2 separate regions of the Homo sapiens genome follow, and region 2 is linked to region 1. The links come from fine-mapping of genetic effects on gene expression. A gene starts in region 1. The other region holds a variant in brackets. All regions are shown on one strand. Distances are from middle to middle. Region 1 holds the start of HTR3B (5-hydroxytryptamine receptor 3B). Region 2 has its middle 14 kb from the start of HTR3A.

Region 1 (8,336 bases):
GAAATTTGAGATGAGATTTGGGTGGGGACATACAGCCAAACCATATTAGTGGATGAAAAATGCTGTATGTAAGATAGTGAGGAGGGACCATTTTTGTGAAAAACTGAAGGGTGGGGAGAGGAGCAATACCAAACCTAAAAGAACTGAGTATGAGCTGGGTGTAGTGGTGCATGCCTATATTCCTAGCTACTGGGGAGGCCAAGGCGGAAGGATCACTTGAGCTCAGGAGATCAAGACCAGCCTGGGCAACATACCAACACCTCATCTCTACTAAAAAGAGAAGAAATTAGCCAGGTGTGGTGGCACACACATATACTCCCAGCTATGGGAGGCTGGGATGGGAGGATTGCTTGAGGCTGGGAGATGGAGGCTACAGTGAGCCATGATCACACCACTGCATTCCAGCCTGGGCGACAGAGTGAAACTCTGCCTCTTAGGGAAAAAAAAAAAAAAAGCTAAAAGTACTGAGTAAACAAAGTCCAGACAGGACACTAAGATTAGAAAAAGAAAGATCTAAGCCAGCTGACAGTACAGAGCAAGGCTGTCAAGGAAAGATCAGGAAGCATTGTATATAAACTACTTTGAAGACAAGTCACTCATACAAAATCATTGCCATCTTGACAGAATTCATCAGCCAATAAAGAGCCATAATGGGCAGGATTACTAGACTGTTGTTAAGTTAGCTAATGAAAGTTGTAATGTACCTGTATTACACATCATTAGTAATGGCCTTCCAGTAACAGATGGGCATATCAGAAAGTGCAAAGAAAAGGGAGGGAAGCACGTCCCCAGAAGGTTTGACTTAGAGTCATAGCTTACTACAATGCATGGCAAGAATGCAATGTCGATCATCGCCTCAATTAAACCTTTGCATAAAGGGATGCTTCTGCATTGCTTTCCCATAAAAACTGCTACCTACATAGCTATATTGCCTGTAGCTTGCCTTTCTCTTGTCCTAATTCATCCCATAAGTAGAAGCTGACAATTCAAAGAACTGATAGGAAGAGCTGAGACTTTGAGGGCCAGATCAGTCCTCTATGATCTTCCCTCTTGATGAAGCCCCATTTATCTGCCCACCCTCTCTAAAGAGTATTTCTCAGATAAACTTTCCATAACTGTGTACCAAAGTTCCTCCACCAAGTTACATTTAAATTACTCTTTCTTCTGAAATATTTTCAAATGTATAGCAGAATTGGATGGATAGTACAAAGAATTCCCCTAGACCCCCACAATCATTTGAGAATAAGTTAGCGACATGATCAACATGATGTGCCCTGTTTTTGTTTTTTGTTTTTTTTTTCTTTTCTGAGACAGAGTCTCATTCTGTCGCCCAGGCTGAAGTGCAGTGGTGTGATCTCGGCTCAGTGCAACCTCTGCCTTCTGGGTTCACAAGATTCTCATGCCTCAGCCTCCTGAGTAGCTGGAATTACAGGCATGTGCCACCGTGCCGGGCTAATTTTTGTATTTTTAGTAGAGACAGGGTTTCACCATGTTGGCCAGGCTGGCCTTGAACTCCTGATCTCAGGTGATCTACCCACCTAGGTCTCCTAAAGTGCTGGGATTACAGGCGTGAGCCACTGTGTGCGATCTTCCCTCATTCTTGAATACTTAGTGTGCTGGTCTTACAAACAAGGACATTCTTTTGCATAATCTCTATACAATTAAAATCAGGAAACCAACATTACTACATTGCCACATTACTACCATCTAATCCACATACCTCATTCGAGTTTCAATTCTTCCCAAAATGTTCTTTATAACAAAAGGATCCAATTCAGAATCAGATATTGTGCTTGTGTCTCTTTAGTCTGATAGGTTCCTCAGTCTTTCCTTAACTTTTATAACCTTGGCACTTTTGTGTGTGTGTGTTTTTGTTTTTGAGACAGGGTCTACCTCTATTGCCCAGGCTGGAGTGCAGTGGCACAATCACAGCTCACTGCAGACTCTATCTCCTGAGCTCAAGTGATCCTCCTGCCTCAGCCTCCCAAGTAGCTGGGACTACAGGAGTGCACCACCACATTAAACTAATCTTTTATTTTTTTGTGTGGAGACAGGGTATCCTTATGTAGCTTAGGCTGGTCTCAAATTCCTGGGCTCAAGCAGTCCTCTTACTTCAACCTCCCAAAGTACTGGGATTACAGGTATGAGCCATTGCACCTGGCCCACCTTGGCACTTTTGAAGATGCCTGCTGTTTTGTTTGTCCCACAGTATGCCACTGTCTCATCTGGTGTTTCCTCCTGAATAGATTCAAGTTATGAATTTTTGGCAAGACTATACCGGAAGAGCTATGGAAGCTAGGTGTGCTTGTTACTATTGGGGTGTCATTCTCCTAGGCTGCTAAGTGGACAGAGCTAGGGAATATATGCATGTATGAACATGTGCAAACACACATTACATTTGTATTTATTTCTTTTCTTTTCTTTTTTTTTTTTTTTTTTTGAGGCGGAGTCTCCCTCTGTCTCCCAGGCTGGAGTGCAGTGGCGCGATCTTGGTTCATGGCAACCTCCACCTCCTGATTCAAACAATTCCCCTGCCTCAGCCTCCCGAGTAGCTGGGATTACAGGCATGTGCCACCACGCCTGACTAATTTTTGTAGTTTCAGTAGAGATGGGGCTCACCATGTTGGTCAGGCTGGTCTCAAACTCCTAACCTCAAGTGATCCACTGGCCTCGGCCTCCCAAAGTGCTGGGATTACAGGCTTGAGCCACCACGCCCAGCTTATTTGCAATTATTTATATATTTAGCAAATGTACTGAAAACCATGGGTTCACACTGATACCTCCAAAACCAAGTCAACACCAAATGGTTATCTTAGTTTTCTCTCTTTCTGTGTATACCACTCCCTTCACCAACAGTAAGAAAGCAATTAGGCTACATTTTATTGGTAGATGAAAATTAGGTGTAGAACTTCATGGATTCTAAACAAAGGGACTGAGTGATTAGGAGAATAGGAATCAAATATATACTTTCCCCCCTTCGGTTGGCTCTGTGAAAATTTATATCAAAATTTGCCTCTATAATCTCATTTTTAATAAAAAAGCAGGCAGATGTTGGAAATGGTATTTGTTTTTTCTTTCTAGAGCATCTGGGGGTGTCTAGAAATGGAAAATAGTGTTATTGTATAGAATTATGCATCATGTTCCTTAGTAATGAAAAATGAATGCGTATTCAATCAAAAAGTGAAAAAAAAACTTTTATTAAATGATGTTGAACTTTGTTTTCATCTTCAATAAGCCTAGAAGCATCCTTTCTAGAAGGTTACTTTCTGAATTGTGAGCAGTGAAAATTTGAGAAGCCCTCCTATTTATCAAAAGTCAATGTTTCTTTTAATTAAAAGGGCTTAGGAAAAACAAAAAGCACTTTTCCATTGCATTGTTTGCAGTTGTTCTTCATTAGACAATACCAGGTTTCCATTAGCCTTGTGTAATTCAAGAGCCCAAGAACCACTGTCAAATGCTGAAGATGTTACTGCATAAGTCTGATTTAGAACAGCTATTTGGATTTCAATTATTAATGAAATTAGTGTCCTGAATGTCAGCAAGAGTACTGCCTTAGGTAAAGGCTGTAAAGGAAATCATATTAGTGTGGAATTTCCTCTCCTTAGGGGCTCCTCTTAGATTACATTATTCACTTAGCTATCTCCTGTCAGGAAAATGGAAATGTTGGCCACGGTCTGATCTTGGGGCAGAACCAAAGGGAGAAGTTAAGGGATTTCATGACGGCATCAATTCCAAAACATTTGCATGGTGCTGGTATTGCCTTTGGTCCCACTGAGTGTTTACAAAATAGCACCAGTAAGGATAGCATCAACTGGCAAACGGAGAAGGAGGAGAACAGAGTGGAGAGGAACCCTGTTAGGAGAAATTGAGCGGCATTCCATCTGGTAGGCAAGTTTGCATTTCTCCTTTTTGGGATCTGCCCAGGAATGTTGTCAAGTGTAATGGCTCCCCTGTGGGCCTGCATCCTGGTGGCTGCAGGTGAGTCCTTTTAATAATTTTACTAGGCATTAAGGATTAACTCTTAGAAGATAGAGACAATATTTGTATACACCGTACTGTAGGACTTCTCAGGCATGTTTGTTTTTATTCATCGTCTGTAAAATGCCAGTCCTGTGAAGCTATATGGAAAACAATGATTTGTTTGTGACTTGGCTCCTATGATTGCAAATACGTATACATATAGCATCAGACTGTGGGGCTTTTTACACATAGCTGAAAATATGCTCTGAAATGTTATAATTGCTTGATAAATCTCTGCTTCTCTAGAAATCAAGCTCTCTGCAGGTTGATTGAGAGTTTGGGGCATTCTTTTTCAAATTTGCTTTTATGTGTGGATAATATGTTTTTATTATCCAAAATAGTCTTGGCTTCATTATCAGCTGTTAGCAGCCCAGAGAAAAAGTCCACTAGATTTGTCATGGCTACAGATATATGTATATCATTTTGGTATTAGAGGCCTTAACATCTCGCCTTACAAAATCTATATAGGTGATGAGTATATCTCTAAAGACAGGTACTATAAACTGGTAAGTTTTGAGTCTACAATTCCTCTTAAAAGTAATTTAGAAGTTAATACTTTTTTTTCTAAATTTCTAGAACTATATTTCCATGGCACCAGTATTAACTCTACTGAATTGAATCATTTTAGTTAGGATACAATTGATTCTTAGTACATGCGCACAAATCAAGAATTTATGATTATGCTGGTGTTCTCAACACCCCACTTTCTTGAGGTTTCTCCTAGAGCTCATATCTGAATTCTCAAGTTTTAGGATGTAACTGGAAGTGGAATGAGTCAATTATAGAGATGAGTTAGAAATTTGGTAGCCAGGAAGCTGGAAATGATTTTTTTATTGGGTAGAGAAGAAAAATAGCCACTTATCATTAAAGTATAAAAATCCTGGATGTTGAACATAAAGGATAAAAGCATATCTTAATTGTAAAAAATAAAAACAGAGGAAGTGTCATTAAATGCCAAATGGGTTTCTTAGTAGAAAATAATCGTGAACATTAAACTAAGATAAAATAGAAAAATGAAGGTAAGAAAACAGACTAAGTTCTTAACAATATCTCTCTAATGTTTTGTATTATGCATGATTTTTGTTCTAAATGTAGCAGAAAGAAGTGTTTTAATAGTGTCTGATAACCAGTGCTTTACCATAAATCATTCCGTGGATACTTGTTGCAGAAAGACCTGCCCTGTGGAATTGTACTGGGTTTTACTATGTTTACTTTACGTATTTTACTATATTTACAAATCAAGATGATTTGTTAAGTGTAAGAGCACGGAACCAATCCCAGGGGGCAGTGTGCTGGTATAGAAGGAGGCCTGAACAAGGAGAGCCAGCTAATTCCTGCTTCACCACTCACCAGCCACGTAACCCTGGGAAGTCAATTAATCTCTTAGAGACTCAGTTTTCCTGTAAGCTAACTTTATTTTGGATATTCATGACAATCAGATAAGACAGCATTGTTAAATTGTAAGGTGAAATGCAAATGTAAGATATTATTAACCTGAAAACACATGCAGAAAATACCACTGGCTATTTCTGTCCAATAATATACTCCATACAACATGTCAGTCTTCTTTTTGAAAGGTTACTTGCTGTTGTTCCTGATATTCTCAGGGAGCCAGGTTACACTTAATCATGTAGCGTCATGATTAAGAGCTTGGACTTCGAATCCAGACCAGCTGTGTGTAAATATCACTCCCTTCACTTGCAAGCTTCATGACCTTGGGCAGTGCTAAGCTCACTATGCCAATAGTCCCTCATCTGCAGGAATAGTGCACTCCTCACAGAGCTGTAGAGTACCTGTCTCATAAGTTTGTTGGGAACTTTGAAGGAGATCATTCATGTGAGGACTTAGCCTGGTGCCTGGCATACAGTCAGCATTCAATTAGTGTTAGGAATTCAATACATAAATCTCATTTCCTTTTAACCTCTCAGATATATGTGTAACTCTCTTATAATCCTACAGATACATAGTGACTAAAGCAAGAATAGTGCTTTCCATCAAAGTGCCCTGAACACTTTAAGATAGGTGCATGGGAGAGTAAGTCATTAAAACAAGGAAAACACAGGAATAATTTTACTGTGTTCTTATCTTCCTCCTTTTCAATCTCTCTTCACCTGCAAGTGCTTCATAGCTCAGTCCCTAACACATTCTACTTTCCAGAAATCTTACAAGTGAATCATTTGAAGCTGATTATTAGCATTCAAGAAGGCAGTTTTGGCGAGGAATCTTTTCTGGGTCTGTTGATAGCTTCCATCAGTGTCTGTTGAAACATCACTGAACTGTGAGTCATTTAGTGCTTGTGTGAATGTCACATTAGCTTTCAAGGGGCATAATTTACTGTTAATTAATGGTCACTTAAATCCTTAATCTCTCTCCTGTAATTGATCTTTCTCCTCAGGCAAATTTGCATTCATAGTAGAAATGTAATTTATTATTTCTTCCCATCTTAAACAAAGAACTCTTTCCCCTTTTGGTTTATTTAAGCATATTTCCATTTGCTTATTATTTTTCTCCTTTCAGTGCTTGATTCTCTTTTGTTCCTAGTCCTAGCTTCCAGAACTTTCTCTTTTTAACCAAGATTTTGACCCATTCTAGAAAACATGAGTTTATCCATAGGGAATCTATGGATTGCTTCCTAGACAAGATCGCAGAGGGGAATTTGAGTCTTTGTGAGCAGACAGTGCGAGGAACACATATTCATTTCTCAGAATTATGTTTTAATGCTGTCTCGGGTAATTTCCTGTATTGAAACATACTCATTTCGGTGTTTCCCCAACTGAGACTTGAATTGGGAGCTTCCAAGCGAGGTAAACGTGAAGCTGCCCACAGCAAAGTTGGCAGGAAAAGCACTGGGACAGCTTTGCCTTGTGCTCCTGACTTCCCTCCCCTGGGGTACACCAGCGAGAAATGTTCTCAGGTAGAGAGATTCACAGCACACTTTTTGACAATAACAGTTCACAAAAACCCTACAAATGATGCCTGATGCAAGCCACACACCTTAGTCCTGCACGCCTGAATAGCTAACGCCATTTTAGGCATCTTCTTGGGTGGATTGTTAGGGAGTTAAAATGCTCATTAGATTCCCAGTTCCGACGGTAATGAAAGTGTATATTGCACTGCCCACAAGGAGTCTGGCATTGTACCTCCAGCATTGTTGTTAGCGTTTTGGTCACACTGACATTGTTAAATCATAGAAATTGCTGCCTGTAGCGGCAAGTGACATGACATCATTCATAAAGAAATGGGTATAAACAGGATTGTCGCACAGGGAGAAGCGATCTCATTTACAGTTTCCTGCTGGATCCCTCATACCTTTGGCAGCTCATCAAAATAACCATCAAAACCACTGACAGCCCAGGCAAATTCACACGCAGGACACTACAGAGAGATTTCACTCACGCACTTTGTCAGGAGGTGTGCAATTTGCTTCGGTCCAATGACTGAGTGAAGCATTGAATCCCCTAAGGGCTGGCAAAGCTTGTGAACAAAATATCTTTTTGCAATTCAGAGAAAGCCCTCACAAATTTGTCACTTCCAATTGCTGGTGCTCATTTCTCTTGCTTCCCTTCCTCTGGCCTCCCTGGCCTCAACACCAGTCACAGCTCCTCTACAAATCAAGATTTTTGGGTCAGAAGAAATGGTTGTTCCCTGGAACCAGAGAGAATTTTCTCAAAACAAAGATCTCATTTTCTGACAAGTGCATTTTATTTAAGGACAGATGAAATGAGAAAAGAGATTTTTGAGGAGAAAAGTACAAATTGGGCTCTCGTTAATCCCTTTATCTAGAAATCTATACAAGTTTTTTGGGTTAATGGGTTTCTTCATGTTTTTTTGCTTGATTTTTCTATTGAATTTTTGAATTACGCATGAAAAATCAAAAGAAAAACCAACGCGGGAGTTAAGTTTTGGCTAAGTGTGTAGGTGGGTTTTTTCTAGATGCTAGGAGAGGATGATACAGGAATAAAGAAATTATTCTGTCTCCAAAATGCAAGATTGTTGTAAAATGGAATTGTAGGTACAGTTTTCCAACCTTGGAGATGGCGTTGATTTACTTGTTTTTACAATGAGGTTTCTCCATTGGGCACTTAGGCCATCAGCTTACTTTAAGCATTTGCCAAAGGCCCCACCAGCTGGCTGTGAATTGATGCAGATTTTGGTGAGCTGAAAGCTATATTCTAGTAAAAGCCACCGAGTCCTGAACAGTCTGAAACCTCCTAAAGAAACCAAGCTCCTCTTACTTTTATCTTCACAATGATAGTTTATTTTCCAGGAATTCTAGCCACAGATACACATCATCCCCAGGATTCTGCTCTGTATCA
Region 2 (8,336 bases), 56 kb after region 1:
AAATGCTGGGATTACAGGAGTGAGCCACTGCACCCAGCCTAGAAAGAGGTGTTTTGCTGAGGTATTGAGAGAATGGAATAAGATAGATTTATTGTTCAGTTCTCAGGGAGTGGGGAGGGATAGCTTTAGGAGACATACCTAATGTTAAATGACGAGTGCAGCACACCAACATGGCACATGTAAACATATGTAACTAACCTGCACGTTGTGCACATGTACCCTAAAACTTAAAGTATAATTAAAAAAAAAAGAAAAGATAAGATTTATTAAGTGCTGAGCACAGTGCCTTGCACTCAGGCATTGAAAGGATAGGAATTCTTCTTCATCACCACCTTACCACAGGGCTGTTATGAGAGCCCAGGGAGATCACATATGAAAGCGCTTTGTAAACTCGCCGGGTTTGCTCCTCAGAGTGTGGGTCCAGGACCAGCAGCATTAGCATCGCCTGGAGACTTGTTAGAAACGCAGAATTTCAGGTCCTCCCAGACCTCCTGAATCTGAGTCTGATTTCGAAGTGTTCTCTCAGGGGAGTGATGTGCACATTGTCTTTGGAGAAGCAGGGATGGAAGAACGATGGAGGTAAAAGGTGAGAGCGCAGACTCAGGGAGGCCTGAGGAGCTGGGTGTTCAGGGGCAGCCCAGCGTTACATGCAGCCCACCCCTGCTGCCAGGACAGCTGGGCCCACGGGGCACCTGCCAATCACTGTGCTGCACACGGTAATCTCCCCGCCTCACAATCAGAGCAGTCAAGCACTCAGCACAGCTGGGCAGCTGAATTATAGGCTGCAGGCAGATGGCAGAGATGGCTCTGCGTGTGCCGTCCAAGGAGAGAGTGAGTGAAGGGCAAAGAGGGCCTCTTCCACAGCCCCCTTCCCCTGCAGTGAACACCCTCTTTTCTGGAGAACAAGACTGGGCTGCCAGCACCAGCGATCAGGTGGCCCCCCGTTTCCCAGAGCTCACTTGCTGCCCTGGGCCAGCCTCCGGGCCCTCCTGCTTGCTGACTTATGGTCATGGTACCTTAAGGGACCATCTGCCCGGTGCCCTTAGTTGTGTGAGTCCCTCTTCCTGAGGGAGAAGCTTTCTTTAGCTGACTCTCCTCCTACAGATGCAACCTTTTTGTTCATCCAAATGCTTCCCTTTCCCCGGAGCGTGAAACATAAGACATCAGGTGGAGGTAGGCCTGAGACCAGAGGTACCATGCGGTTGTCATCCTTCTGTTTCTCCAGTTTCTACCACAAAGGCTGGCACAGGGCAGAGGACTGGAGAGTTCTGGCTGAAGGAACATCCATGCCATTTTGCCCGGAAGGTAGCCAGCTGGGCTGCAGCGAGGGAAGTGCCTGGCCACCATCTCCTACCAGAGCCCTGGTGGTGGAGAGTGATGGGGAAAGAATCCCAGGTGACAGGGGAGGCTGTGCTGCTGCCACTGCTCCTTCCCTTTCCTCCCAGAGGTGCCAGTGCTTGGCGGAGGCATCACTCTTGTAGACTGGATGCTCTGTCTTCTCATTCTGGTCCCAGGCTGCCGAGTGGCCTGTTCTCCCTGCCGCCACCGTGTCTCAGCCCTGGTCCCTGGGAGGGATGAAAGCTCTCTCCGTCTTCCTGATCTTCCCTTTCTGGTGATATTTCAAACACCCATTAGGTTTTACAGGGTATTGCTTCCAAGGCTACAGGAGATGGCTCTGGGGCTGCACTCCAGGCACTTAGGTCCCCCTGAGCCTGTTGACAATTCTGCCACGCAGCCTGTCCTCCCATCACACCCTACCCCCTTGCGCTTCAGCCACCACATCCCTCTCCCTGCCATCCTGAGCTTGACACAGAGGGCACTAGGCAGAGCCCAAGCTTGTCACTGTGCCTTTATAGGCCTGGGGTCCCCTACTCTGCTTCTTTGGGCAGCAGAGAGAGAGTGTGTGTACATGTGTCTGAGGCAGTAACTTGAAGTTGGAGGAGAATCTAGACCAACTCATGCAAAGCTCTCATTCTGCAGATGAGGCTGAGAGAAAATAAAAATATACCCAAGATAACACTAAAGACAATGATAATGATTACTGATAGCTACTGAAATGGGAAGCGTGTATGTGTCATGCATTGTATGAGGACTTTCCATGGTGAAGCTAATTTAGCCCACATGACCATCTTCCATGGTATGTTACATTTACAAATACAGAAACTAAGGCTCAGCCAGTTTAAGAAACCTGCCTACCATCACACAATGAGTGAGTGAAAGAGCAGAATTTGGTATTAGGATTATTTGCTTGAACATCAAGCAGCTTTAGTAGCTTCCTCTGAAAAGCAAAGTGGTGAGAGTAAGAGCCCACGCCCCTCCCACCCCAGGGAGCTGTGGAGGCTCCTGGGGTGAAAGCTGCAAAGGTGAGGGGTTATCATCCCCATGCAGTGTTATACCCAGCTGGGGAAGAGGCCCCCGCTCCAGAAGAGAAGATGCACACATTGCCTTGGGCTAGAATCCTGAGGCCTCCACAGGGGCCTCCCTGCCCAGGCTAAAGAAATGTAAATGGGAAGGGAAGTGGGGAAGGGAGAGGTGTCAGAAATGGGGCTGGGCTAGGTCAGCATGGTGGCTCACGCCTGTAATCCCAGCACTTTGGGAGACTGAGGCCAGGTGGATTACTTGAGGTCAGGAGTTCGAGACAAGCCTGGCCAACATGATGAAACCCCATCTTTACTAAAAATACGAAAATTAGCCAGGCATGTGGTGAACACCTGTAATTCCAGCTACTCAGGAGGCTGAGGCAGGAGAATCACTTGAACCTGGGAGGCGGAGATTGCAGTGAGCTGAGATCATGCCACTGCACTCCAGCCTGGGCGACAGAGCAAGACTTCATATCAAAAAAAAAAAAAGAATCTTATTCAGATCACCTCATTAAGTCCTCCCCAAAACTCTGGGGTAGGTGACAGTATCCATCCTCCCTTCAGAGAGGCTGACTAACCTGTCCAAGGCATGTAGCTAGGAAGTGGCAGAGCTGGCATTTGAATGGTGTTAGGACAGGCTAGGTTATTGCTGTGGTAACACATGATCCCCAAATCTCTGTGGCTTACGACAGCAAGCTCTGTGCCCACAGAGGTCAGCCCCAGCTCTGATCTTATGTCCTCGCCCTGAGACCCAGGCCGCTGCAGCCTCCATTGCGAACATCACCAGTCACCACAGCACAGAAAGATACACATGTGGCTGGGTGTGGTGACTCACGCCTGTAATCTCAGTACTTTGGGAAGCTGAGGTAGGTGTGGATCATTTAAGGTCAGGAGTTCAAGACCAGCCTGTCCAACATGGTGGAACCCCATCTCTACTAAAAATACAAGAATTAGGCAGGTGTGGTGGCAGGCGCCTGTAGTTCTAGCTACTCGGGAGGCTGAGGTAGGAGAATCACTTGAACCCAGGAGGTGGGGGTTGCAGTGAGCCTAGATCATACCACTGCACTCTAGCTTGGGTGACAGAGCAAGTGACTCTGTCTCAAAAAAAAAAAAAAAAAAAAAAAAAGGAATGCCATGCACGGTGACTCATGCCTGTAATCCCAGCACTTTGGGAGGCTGAGGTGGGCAGATCACGAGGTCAGGAGTTTGAGACCAGCCTGGCCAATATGGTGAAACCCGTCTCTACTAAAAATACAGAAATTAGCAGGGCATGGTGGTGTGCACCTGTAATTCCAGCTACTAGGGAGGCTGAGGCAGAAGTATCGCTTGAACCCGGGAGGTGGAGGTTGCAGTGAGCCCAGATTGCACCACTGCACTCTAGCCTGGGAGACAAAGGGAGCCTCCATCTCAGGAGAAAAAAAAAAAAGAAGATACACACGTCCTTTCTGCTCACAACTCAGTGTCCTACTGTCCTTGTCGTGCAACCCACCGAACCACCACAAGGCCAGGAAGTACAATCCTTACAAGTGCCCAGAAAGGGGGAGAACTGGAATATTCGAGGCACAGTGCTCACAGTTACCACATAGTTTCTAATCACCAAGCTCGACTCAGTCCCTCAGTGCACTGAGCTGCCATTTCCTCATCGGAAAGGTGGGAATAGTAATTCTACCTTGCAGGGTCATTGTGGTGAATAAATGAGACAATATACAAAAATCTCAAGCCTAGGAACACTGAGTCGTAGCCATTAGTATGTTCATGTGTGAAGTTCAGGAATACTCTGGGGCTGTTCAGTTCGACCCTTTTTCAGTGCAATGACAAATCAAGATACGGGATTTAGAAGAGTCCTCTGAAACAAGAGGACAAGTTTGGGAAATGCTGCTGCTCTCTGAGTGCATGAAACCACCTTCAGGGAACCCAGAGAGAAAGGAAAATTTCCAGGAGGACAATCAGTGGCAACAGCCAATGTGCAAATGTGATTATGTCAGCATACACGCAGACTGCTGAGCGCTTCTCCAGGACTCTTCATTTAAGACTAATTAAATGCTTGGAACCAGGAAGATTGAGAGGGTCCTCTCCAGGAAGCTATTCCAGGCCAGCAAGACACTTCAGGGTCTATTTACAGAGGTGGAACGCTCCAGAGGAGGAGGAAGAAGAGGGTAGCTCAACTGAGAGCACTCCAGAGGAGGAACAGGAGGCCAGAAGGGCTGAAAATCACTCAGGATATTGCAGGGTCCTCCCGCCCCAACCTTGGCCTCCGAGGGTCTGAGGTTTTGTGTGATGTAAGAAAACAAAACTAGGGTTTGTGCTGGTGATTGCAAAATGAGAACTGCCTGTGGAA[T/G]GGCATGGGTTCGTTTTCCTTTGCCACGGTGAAGAATTACCATAAATTTAGCTGCTTGAAACAACACAAGTTTATTGTCTTACAGATCGGGAGGTCAACAGTCCGAAGTCAGTTTCACTGGGTTAAACCAATTCTGCCAGCCGAGTTGGTTCCTTCTGGAGGTTCTCAGGGGAGAATCTGTGCCCTTGCCTTTTTCAGTTTCTAGGGGTCACTGGCATTCTTCAGTTCATGTCCCCTTCCTCCGTCTTCAAGGCTCAAATCCAGTTTCTGCTTCTGTCATGCACAGCCTTCTCTTCCATCATCAAATCTCCTTCTGCCTTCCTCTAATAAGGACACTAAATCAGTACATTTAGGACGGACCCTGGCAACCCAGTACAACTTCTCATCTTAAGATCCCTAATTTAATCACATCTGTAATTTTCCCTTTTGCCGTCTAAGGTAAGAGCTATAGGTCCCAGAGATTAGGACCTGGGTATCTTTGGGGCCATTATTCAGGATACCACACAAAGCTTTTGAGATGGTTTGAATAGCAAAAGGGCAACAATTGTCTTAGGCCATCTTGCATTGCTCTAAAGGAATACTCAAGGCTGGATAATTTATAAATAAAAGTTTGTTTGCCTCATGGTTCTGCAGACTATACCAGAAGCATAGTGCCAGCATCTGCTTCTGGTAAGGGCTTCAGGAAACTTCCACTGATGGTGGAGGGTGAAGGGGAGCAGGCTTCACATGGTGAGAGAAGAGGAAAGAGAAAGAGGGCAAGGCAGCTAGGCTCTGCAACAACCTGCTCTTGTATGAACAATTCGAGCAAGAACTCACTCATCACCATGGGGAGGGCACCAAGCCATTCAAGAGGGATCCACCCCCATGACACAAACTCCTCCCACTAGGCCTTACCTCCAACCTTGGGGATCACATTTCAAAACATGAGATTTGGAGGGGACAAACATCCAAACTATATCAACCGTGAACCCAACTGCATCCATAGATCTTCCACTTGGCCCTGGGGTAGGAAGCACCCTGCAGGCCTAGCTGTGTATGGAACCTGTGTGATGACCCCCAGCAAGCCTGTCTACACATCTCCCTTCAGCCATGTCGCCAGTGCCCAATAGACAGTGATACAGAGCAGTAATCATGTCATGATTACTGTCATGTAATCAACCAATGATTACATGAGTTGACTCCAAGAGACATGTCGTGGAATCAACCAATCTATTAGCAGTCATGATTTCGGCGTCCGTGTCCTGTGGCTGGCAGTTCAGACCTGGGGCCCTGCAGATTCTCTGAGGAGGAGATTCAGTCAACAAATATTTATTGAGGTCCTACTATGTGTCGGGCACTATTCCAGGCACTTGGGATAGATACATCAGTGAACAAAGCACACAGAGGTCCCTGCCTTCATGGCGCTAAAGTTCCATCATTAGAGACAGACAGTAAAGAATCAATTGAAGTCAAAAGAAGTTAACTGTGTAGAATGTTAGGTACTAATGGGGCTATGGAAAAATAGAAAAAGTAGGGCAGGGGAAGAGGGATCAGGCATGAGAAGGTGGGATGGGGCAGATGAGGGTATTATATGGAGTAGCCACGGGAGGCCTCACTGAGCAGGGGAGATTTATGTAGACTTGAAGGAGAGGGTATTTGCCAAGTGGACATGCAGAGCGGGGAGCTCCAGGCAGAGGGGAGAGCTGGGGCAGAGGCTGTAAGGCAGAGCACACCTGGTCTGTGCAAGCAACAGAAGGAAGGCCATGAGGTTGGAGTGGGCAGACTGATGGAGAAAGTCACAGCAGGCCGGGTGTGGTGGCTCATGCCTGTAATTCCAGCACTTTGGAAGGCTAAGGCAGGTGGATCACTTGAGGTCAGGAGTTCGAGACCATCCTGGCCAACATGGTGAAACCCTGTCTCTATTACACATACAAAAATTAGCCAGGCATGGTGGCAGGCACCTGTAATCCCAGCTACCAGGGAGGCTGAGGTGGGAGAATTGCTTGAACCCAGGAGGTGGAGGCTGTGGTGAGTCAAGATCACACCACTGCACTCCAGCCTGGGCGATACTCCTGGACGACTTGTCTAGTCGGAGGGGGGGGGGGAAAGAAAGTCACATCAGGAGAAGACAAAGAGGTAACAGGGGCCAGATGAGCTATGAGGGCCTCTGTGCAACTAACCAGGCCAAACCTGAAAAGAAAAAAGAAGACAAAGCAAATGAGGGCTGCAAGCACTCTGGTACGAGACTCACGAAAATCCTCCGAACTGGGAGCTAGTTCCTGTGTTGGGTGTTGTGTGACCTTGCTCGAGTCACCTATCACTGCAGAGATTCACTTTCCTCACTTATAAATTGTGCAGCTTGCACCAGATTCATTCACTCATCCACCCATTCCACAGGCTCTGACTAGCACCTCTGAGGCCCCAAGCACATGGACCAGCACTGCAGACACTAAGATGAGTCTCTGCCCTCCCTGTCCAGAGTCCTTCCAGCTCCAACACTTGGGGCTGAAAGAATTGAGGGGTTTGTGCCCAGAGAAGAGAAGGTGTTATGGTGTAAGGACTTTCACATAAAAAAGAAGTTAGTCCCAAAGGATAGGACCGGATGGGTGGAAGTTTTAGGGAAACAGTTTTGGGGATCAGTGTAGAAAAGAGTTCTCCAAAAATGAAATGGGCTATCCTGAGAGGTCTCATCACTGGAGGTCTGCAGAGGCTGAAAGATCATTTGCTGGGATGTCATCAAGGTTTGTGTGCTGGGAAGAGGCTGGACTAGATGATTTTTAAGGCCCGAGGGAGTTTTCTCTGCTATCTCTATCTCTGGAGGACTTGGACACCAAGACAGGCTTGTGTCCTTTGGGATGTGCTGAGGGTCTTGCTTTCGGCTGGGGATGGGCTGCCCTCCCACAAATGCTGAGGTGAATGACACAGTGAGAGACAAGACTAGCTGGATTTCCTAGGCTGACTAAGAATCCCTAAGCCTAGCTGGGAAGGTGACCGCATCCACCTTTAAACACGGAGCTTGCAACTTAGCTCACACCTGACCAATCAGGTAGTAAAGAGAGCTCACTAAAATGCTAATTAGGCACAAACAGGAGGTAAAGAAATAGCCAATCATCTATTGCCTGAGAGCACAGCGGGAAGGACAACCATGGGGTATAAACCCAGGCATTCGAGCCAGCAACAGCTACCCTCTTTGGGTCCCCTCCCTTTGTATGGGAGCTCTGTTTTCACTCTATTAAATCTTGCAACTACACTCTCTTCTGGTCCGTGTTGGTTACCGCTCGAGCTGATCTTTCGCTTTCCATCCCCCACTGCTGTTTGCCGCCGTTGCAGACCTGCCGCTGACTTCCATCCTTCTGGATCCAGCAGGTTGTCTGCTGTGCTCCTGATCCAGTGAGGCCCCCATTGCCACTCCTGATTGGGCTAAAGGCTTGCCTTTGTTCCCGCATGGCTAAGTGCCCAGGTTCGTCCTAATGGAGCTGAACACTAGTCACTGGGTTCCACGGTTCTCTTCTGTGACCCACGGCTCCTAATAGAGCTATAACACTCACTGCAGGGCCCAAGGTTCCATTCCTTGGAATCCGTGAGGCCAAGAACCCCAGGTCAGAGAACACGAGGCTTGCCACCATCTTGGAAGCAGCCCGCCGCCACTTTGGAAGCGC

The links. PIP is the estimated chance that this variant, and not a neighbour inherited with it, causes the effect.
Region 2: its variant is fine-mapped to the expression of HTR3B in whole blood (TOPMed, PIP above 0.99).

Annotation. Positions count from the first base shown.
Region 1 is chr11:113,901,008-113,909,343 of GRCh38, forward strand. HTR3B (5-hydroxytryptamine receptor 3B) reads left to right here and starts at 3,789. Exons shown (of 9, transcript NM_006028.5): 1 at 3,789-3,978; 2 at 8,288-8,336. The coding sequence starts at 3,927.
Region 2 is chr11:113,956,511-113,964,846 of GRCh38, forward strand. No RefSeq gene overlaps it. Among named protein-coding and RNA genes, the nearest start is that of HTR3A, 14 kb to the right of the region's middle. RefSeq lists an enhancer at 200-1,085. The variant T/G (reference allele first, on the strand shown) is at 4,699.